Homo sapiens: one gene and its partner. The protein of the gene in region 1 interacts with the protein of each later gene in a biochemical or structural test. Each region holds a gene or a part of one and is shown on either strand. Other genes may lie near its edges.

Region 1 (3,925 bases):
TAAAACTTGCTGTACAGGAGAAGAGCTCAATACAATTTGAACATTAGGCTGTCATTCTTACCATTATCCAGGAACAAGTTGTAGAGTTCACTAAGATATTGATTATTGGCAATTAAGAATGTCTTAGTGATCAGATCAGATCATTTTGTATCTAAAATGTCCTGATGTTTTGAACTGGACATAATAGACCAACTGCTTCTTTCAAATAACTTTCCAGACAAAAAATTTATCAGAATACATGAACCAAAACAAATTTTTCTTGACCCACTGAACAGGTGTATCTTATGGGAAAAACTACAGTGGCTTTCCTGTAAGGAGGCTTAACTATGAGTCATAGAGGAGAGGTAGATATTTTAAGAGCTTTTAAGGAATAATTTCTTCCAATTAATGAAGGAATTCAGGATCTTTGAATTAAGTGAATTATAGTGCTGCAAGGTACACTAAGTTCAAATGTTTAAGTATTATTATTAAATATGTAATGAATCAGATTCTGTACTTCTCAGTCACATCTTACTGCTTTAAGAGCCACATTAACAATAAATTATACCCAACTCCTCTGGAAGAATTAACTTCTTAATTTATGCTGGTTATAGAGTCTGAAATTCAATATGTTGTGACTCTCAGTTTGATCTATTTATCCTCTGAAAACAAATTGTAACCACATATAAAAAATATTCATGCCTTTTTCCCAAATAATAACTAGCCTCTATTCAGAAAATTAATTCCTTTTCATTGCAGAGTTGCAATTTTCTTTATTTCATTTCTCTCTCCTTTTTACGTATACTGTGGTTGCTTCCAGTCAGGGAAGTTTGCCAGGAGAAATCATTTCATTGATGAATTCATTTCTACTCTCATGTCTGCACTAGAGATTCAAGATCTTGCTTAAAATTTTATGTTGTGGGAATTTTGCTTCTGGCAAAAATTCAGGTTTTTCTGGAAGCATAAGCTGCGTTTTCTCATTCCCTTTAACTCCGAAAAGATTTGAGTACTGTCTAAAGTGAGAGATTTGCTTGACCACCCATTTGCTGACCGTTCAGACTGTTGCATGGAAATGGAACCCCCTCAGTCAGGACCAGAAGATCTCAAAGGAAGGCATAATTAAGAAGATGAGCCTGTGTTTCATTTTCAGTTACCATCTGCTCAAGTGTCTACTAGGTGCAGTTTCAGCACTGAGCATTTTATGTACATTTTCTCATTTCATTCTCCTCAAAACCCTTTGATATTGGTGTTTTCATCTTACACCTTTTACAAATGAGGGAACCCGGCACAGAGAACTCAGATAAGTTGCCTAACATCACAAATCCTGATTCAGCCTGTGTATTCCTTCCCAATCCAGAGCCTGAGGCTTTTCCTCTTTTCATTCCCAGGATCAATTTGCTGTTTGGCATTCACTAGCTTGCTTTCATGTGATGTGATGGTACATTTCACAGTCCCATTTGCTTTTCTGAGGATCCCTTTCATGATTTTGCCCATGTACTCTTGTATTACTTTTTTATCCTTTTTTGAAAATTAAGGCATAATTTACATTTTTACCATCTTGAAAGTTTTCACCGATGCATATGGTCATGTAGCAATCACTGTGATCCAGATACAGAATCGTTCCAGCCATGCTACTTTAACTACTCATTCACTAGATGTTCACTAAGTGCCCGACATCTGCAAGGCACCATGCTAGGCGCTGATAATTCAGCTATGCATCAACATACAGAGACTTAAACTCATGATGCTCACAACCCAGTTAATCTGATTCAATCCCACAATGAAAACTTTCTTTAAATCTTGTTTTAAAGATACTTTTTCTGTTCACAACTAGTCGAAAATAAGTCTTTTCCAAATATCTCTTAATGTGTTGAATATGTTAACTCTCAAATACTTTAAAATGCTTCCTGCTCCATTAAGAATTCCAATGGTAAAAGTCAGAGCCAATTTAAACAAGAGAGAGATATGTGTGTATATACATATATAAATGTATATATATGCATATACATAAAAGTGTATATATATATATGTGTTTGTGTATATATATATAAAATATATACATTTAAATTGTATTTCAACTTTTAGTGTCTTATTGAGATTAATTCCTAGAAGTAACTTCAGATTACAAAAGGAAACCAATTTTTCTCTGTGTTTAAAGAAATTAAAGAAATTAAAGAAAGAAAAAATATCATATAGCACAATCTTAAAACACTTGTATTTTAGAAATGTCCTGTTTAATACCATAGCCACTAGGCAGATGTAGCTATGTAATTTAAAATTTATTAAAATAAAACAATTCAGTTCCCTAATCACACCATCCACATTTCAAGTGCTCAGTAATCTGTGTGGCTAGTGGCAATCACATGGGACAGTGCAGACATGGAACATCTCCATCTGGCAGTGTTGTTTTGGAACAACAACAAAAAACGCTGGTAAAATAATGATTGATAGAACTCATGAGGAGTCATCAACTCAACTAGAAAAATTTCTAAAGTCATTGAAATTGTTTGAAGTGTTCGTGCATGTGAGTTAGTTATGGTTTGTGTTGTGTTAGCCTGCAAACATCCTAGAAACATGATGGGGCCTTTGGTAGAGCAGTAATAGGTGAAAAGAGTTCAGTGGCCACTTTGTAGCCTTTATGGACTGAGGTTGAACAGAAGAGATTAACTGCTGGTTCGGGAGTGAGTGCTCTGCTCCCATAGTACATTTTCCATAATTTGTTCTGTTATCCACTGTATTGTTTTTCAATTTATCTGTCTCCTTGACTCGACCACATTATTTGAGGGTAAAGAATCCATTCTTACATTCATCATTCATTCATTGTTAAATTCATTCATTGAAGAATTCAATGAAAAATTCAGTCAACATTGCATTCTTGAACTTAGCACTTACAGTAGGTGCCAATAAATCTTTAATGTATAAGGTTATAGAAAGATTGTACCATGAAGCTTCTTAGAAAAAAAAATAGTTGTTTGTTGTTGAGACTGGCCAATTTTCACTGGTCTTTCCCTCTTTTGATTATGATCTCAGTCCGGGAGTAAGGTCAGCATTCACCTTGACCTGTCCATCTTTAATGTCACTTCTGGTACGCGAACTTCACTTTCACTGATTCTCCCAGAAATACACGTAAGCATATAGGCATCCTCTATGAGGTTGGAGCTGTCATGAATGTGATTAATGCCTGTACAAGCATTACATAGATCCAGACACTATCTGTGCATGGAAAATAAAGTTCCTGTGATTGATACTGAGTGTGTACTTACAGAAGCAGTCTTGAGTGAGCTTTTAATTCTAGAGGAGTTGGCACCAATGAGTTTTGGATACATCCCAGGGGGCCAGAACATCAAGTCAGCTAGTGTGCCACTTTGTATGTGTACAAGTGCATGCGCCTGTGCTGCTCTGGTGTTGGGGAGGAGAGGGCAATGAGGGATGCAGGATGGTCAGTAATGAGTAAATAAAGTATCTTGAGCCCATGAACACTGTATTTTCAGTCAGCCAAAAGCTATCATATTGGTTTAAGTCTTCTCTAGTCAAGAAGGCCGTAAGAGATAGTGACACAAAACAGTTTTGAAAACCAGGCAAATGATGGGAAGTGCAGTTTTATCATGTGGATGTACGTGCTTTTGGAGTTTGTCAATAGTTTTATCATTAATCCTAGAGAGGATGTGCTACACAAGTTTAACTCTGCACATAGCAAATATTTGAACTGAGTTGAATTCAAATGGAATGGGACATGGGATCAGTTAAAAATCTTCATAGGAGTCAAAAGCAGAAAAAAAGGAGATGATCTTTTGTTAGGATATTTGCTTTATTTTCTTCTCAACTACCTTCCTCCCTTCCTTTTTTCTTTCCCTCCTTCCTTCTATTTTTCCTTCCTTCCCCTTTCCTCCCTTCTTCCCTCCCTTCCTCCTTTTATCCTTCATTCCTTTAATCCTTCCTTCTTTTC
Region 2 (3,925 bases), on another chromosome or scaffold:
CAGAAGCTGAGGTTCCCTAGTCATTGCACAGAATACATACTAGTATGTGACCCCCAAGAAAAACAGAGTGCGGATGCACATTTCAACATTAGTGTTAGTGACACTGGCACCTAAAGTGAGCCCTTTTCATTTAGTGCTGGAATTTATATAGACCATCCTAAGAGGCACTGATGAGTTTGATAGTGCCTTCAGTGAACTGAGATGGAAGACTGATACTGTTGTTCCACCCAAGATGTTTTTGTAAAGAACAGCTGGGCTTTAATGTCATTGTGGTTTGTGTGGTTTATACATGCAACATTCTGTTTTAGTGCCCAGTGTTTTAGTAATGGATATAAAAATGACTTCTCTGGAAATGCAGATTATCTTCTAGTTTCATGCCTCTGAGCATCTGTGGAGCTTCCCCATCACCTTTTATCAAATGACCATAGAATCCAGCAGTCTGTATCAGCTGTTGTCAGATGTTGGTGACAGGCAAAAGGGCTCATTTCTACAGCCCCGAACCTGCCAACTGTAAACAGGTAGGTTGCATGAAGCTATCAGTGGGTGTCTCTGAAGAGTCACATGCTTAATTCATTTAAAGAATATACTCCACTCAAGTCTTAAATAAGGTGTTGGAGCTGCTGAGTGGGGAGGTTTATGTAGAAAGGCTGTGCTCCAAGGGCTTCTCTGCTATTGGCTGTAGGGAAGCATTGTGGGCATCCCAAGCCCTCCCTCAGTGGCCCAGTACATTTGGCAGCTGGACCAAGCCCTTATGCATCATTTGACACATCTAGCAATGCTGATTTCAGTAGGAGCCAGGATTCTGCCATTAAAAGGCAAGAAAATTTGGCCAAGCATTTTTCAGCAGGATTGGAATCAAATGATTATTGATAGGATCAAATAAGACACTAAGTGTAACTGGATGAGCTCCCCATGACCTCCAGAGAGACAGCCAGCCTATTGAAAAGCACTTCGGGCCTTGTGGTGATCATACTTGGAACAGCCTGGTCTCTCCTTTCTCTGAGGACATATGCTGTCTGCAGTTAGGCAGCTGGCCATGCAGGACTAGCCTCTCTCACATTATCATTGCCTCCCCAGCCTCATTCAGATACAGTCTCCATTGCAGACATCCCCATGGAGTAGATACACCTTGCTATACCATGTTCTGTGTTTCAGACAACATGTATCATTATGGTTCCGTTCATTTTCCCTATGAAAATTCAAGGTTAGGTTCTGACACTGGGATTGATTTTGCTATTTATCATGTTTGGAGAAATGGGTTTATTATTTTTATATAGGCTCTGATTTATAGAAAAGGCATTTAACTCTTCTATGATGTGGGCTCTTCAATTATACAGAAGGAAAGTAGGCACAGCTCAGCTTATTTTCTTCCTGTGTCTGCCCAAGTGTCTTGTCTGGAGGTACACAATGATGCTGATGGGGCTATTTGTGGGGGAGGGAAGAGCTGATTGTTCTTCCATGTTTTGTGGTGAGGGGCCTGGAGCAGCCCATTTGGCTCAGACCAAAGATAGCTTCCTAAACCTGAGCAGGACCATGACTAAAATAGTAAAAATGAAAAAGCACCAGTTAGGAGAAAGCAAAACCGTTGCATTGCTTGTGATTTGGGCTGTCTGAGAGGACAGAAAGATGTCTGAGAGGCCTTATAATGCATGAAATGCTAATGGTTTTTCCTTGTGGGTTACTGTGAATTCAGAAATAGGATCGGCATTTCAAGTCTGAGGCAGATCCCAAATTCACCCATTCATGGAGAAGAGGTGAAGAGGCAGTTTCTGGGACTGTATTAATGGTTCTGGCCTCTCCCAGGACAGCCCAAATCATAGAAAAGATGTCTGTCTGCAAGGCTGGCATGTTGCCCACAGCTCCAGTTTGTATCCTGGCTTACAGGTGTTTTGAGATCTGTTTCTGCTGTCACCCAGGCAGAGGGCTAGGGGATGATGACTCATGGGATAGGAGGCCTATTTCCCTGTAAGCACTCCCTCCCCACCCAGGAAAGTGGATACATGACTTTGGATTTTACATGTACTATGGAGAGGCCTGAGCAATTTAGAGATGTATGCAATGCAATATATCTGACCTTTGAACTCCCATATCTGTCAGTCCCTTCCCATTTCATTTCTGGAGTGGGCAGAGAGAGCAAAGGAGGATGGAGAGGAAATTGGAGCTCCCAGAAGGGATATCAGTTATTGGAGGTGAATTGGGAGAATTGGAACTAGTCCAGAGAAGAGCAGAGAGCTGATTTAACAGTTGAAGGGACTGATTTACAATGAAAGATGAAAAGAATTAAATATATATGGCTGGGCTAAATGGCGATGAAGGGAAAGCCATGGTAACAATCTACAAATCTCTGAAGAGAGAGAGTGGCAGTGAAGGAGAGGAGTTATTTAGCGTGGCCCATGGAAGTAATTGGATCATACTTGTAGAAGCAAACTTCGGGTTGGATATCAGGGAAACCTTGTTTTCTGACATTGATATTCCTCTGACTATGGAATGGAATTCCAATGGAGTGGGGAGTCAGGTGAGATGTGGGTCAGACAAGTCCCAGCATTCCTAATTAATCAGTTCTATATTTTCACATATTGAGAAGCTACAACAGGACAGAGAGCTGGGATGCAGAATGGCAGAAGGAATCAGAACCTTTTTATGATCCAAACCCTGGAGCCTTTGGGCATTGGTGTTTTTAGAGGAAAAGAAAAGAATTGCATATACATCTTTGAAGTTGGTGAGAAGCACTTAAGAAATTGTTAATGACAAATATTTTGAAATTACTGAATTTATTCTTCCCTGCCCTCCAATTAAACATAGATTATTTCTCTGGGGTGCGATCTGTATATCCAGGGGTTTGGGAGGCACAATCACCAGAGAATTGTGTATCTAAGATACATCTATGGGTGAGGGTATATGACAAAGCATCACTGAGCAGGGCAAAAGGTGACCTGTGTCTTGAGAAGATGCCATCAGTTCTAGATTTGGTGGACTCCTACTGGCTACTTAAAAATCCCTTTAAATGTTGAGAATCTATATTGCCATTTGAAAGATGAAGTTCATCCACATCCAATTTAACATTTCAAAAATTTTTAAAAGAGAAAGAAGGTCCATGAGGGGTTTTTGTGTAAGGCATGGGAGGAGAGTGTGATTATTAATAAAAATGGGTATCTAGGCTGGCCGCAGTGGCTCATGCCTGTAATCCCAGCATTTTGGGAGGCCGAGGAGGGCAGATCACTTGAGGTCAGGAGTTCGAGATCAGCCTGGCCAACATGGTGAAACCCTGTCTCTACTAAAAATAAAAAAATTAGCCAGGCATTGTGGCATGCGCCTTAGTTCCAGCTACTCAGGAGAGTTGCTTGAACCTGGGAGTTGGAGGTTTCAGTGAGCTGAGATTGTGCCACCTCACTTCAGCCTGGGCAACAGAGTGAGAAAGGAATATCTATAAGGAAGTTGGTCTGCTGAAAATCAGGAGGAACTGGCCTGAAGGTGGGAGAAGAAAAGAATGAGAGTTGATCAGCAGAAGTCTCAGTGCCCTGCCACTCAGGATCACTGCCTGGCAACCTCACAACATGGAAATTTTTCCAGTCTGACCTGTAAAGGAAATTTTGCCTTTCTTTATAATCATTATTAGTGTCCTGTTATGGTTATTTGGAACTTTACAATTTATAAAGCATGTTCACATTTATTATTACTTATTAATCCTATGGTAGGCAGGACAAATGTTTGCTTTATTTTGTAAATGAAGTAACTGGAATCCAGACCATATTTTTCCAGGTCATATAGCACAAAATGGTATACACCTGGAAACTTTCATACTGACTAGAACCACAGTTCCCCTTTCCTTCAAGTCAGAGTTCTTTCCACTAAGGGAATCATCTCCAAGTGCAGATTACAAAGAGCAAGACATGTCAATAGGTGAAAAAATTTCCAGTATCCTTGC

What was found.
Region 2: of the proteins of PTPRZ1 (region 1) and ALK, one has a biochemical effect on the other in vitro, tested with the Homo sapiens proteins (one study listed by IntAct).

Annotation. Positions count from the first base shown.
Region 1 is NC_000007.14:121,875,956-121,879,880, forward strand, and holds part of PTPRZ1 (receptor-type tyrosine-protein phosphatase zeta isoform 1 precursor), read left to right. Parts: intron 1-3,925. UniProt on the Homo sapiens protein: Protein tyrosine phosphatase that negatively regulates oligodendrocyte precursor proliferation in the embryonic spinal cord. Required for normal differentiation of the precursor cells into mature, fully myelinating oligodendrocytes.
Region 2 is NC_000002.12:29,914,751-29,918,675, reverse strand, and holds part of ALK (ALK tyrosine kinase receptor isoform 1 precursor), read left to right. Parts: intron 1-3,925. UniProt on the Homo sapiens protein: Neuronal receptor tyrosine kinase that is essentially and transiently expressed in specific regions of the central and peripheral nervous systems and plays an important role in the genesis and differentiation of the nervous system.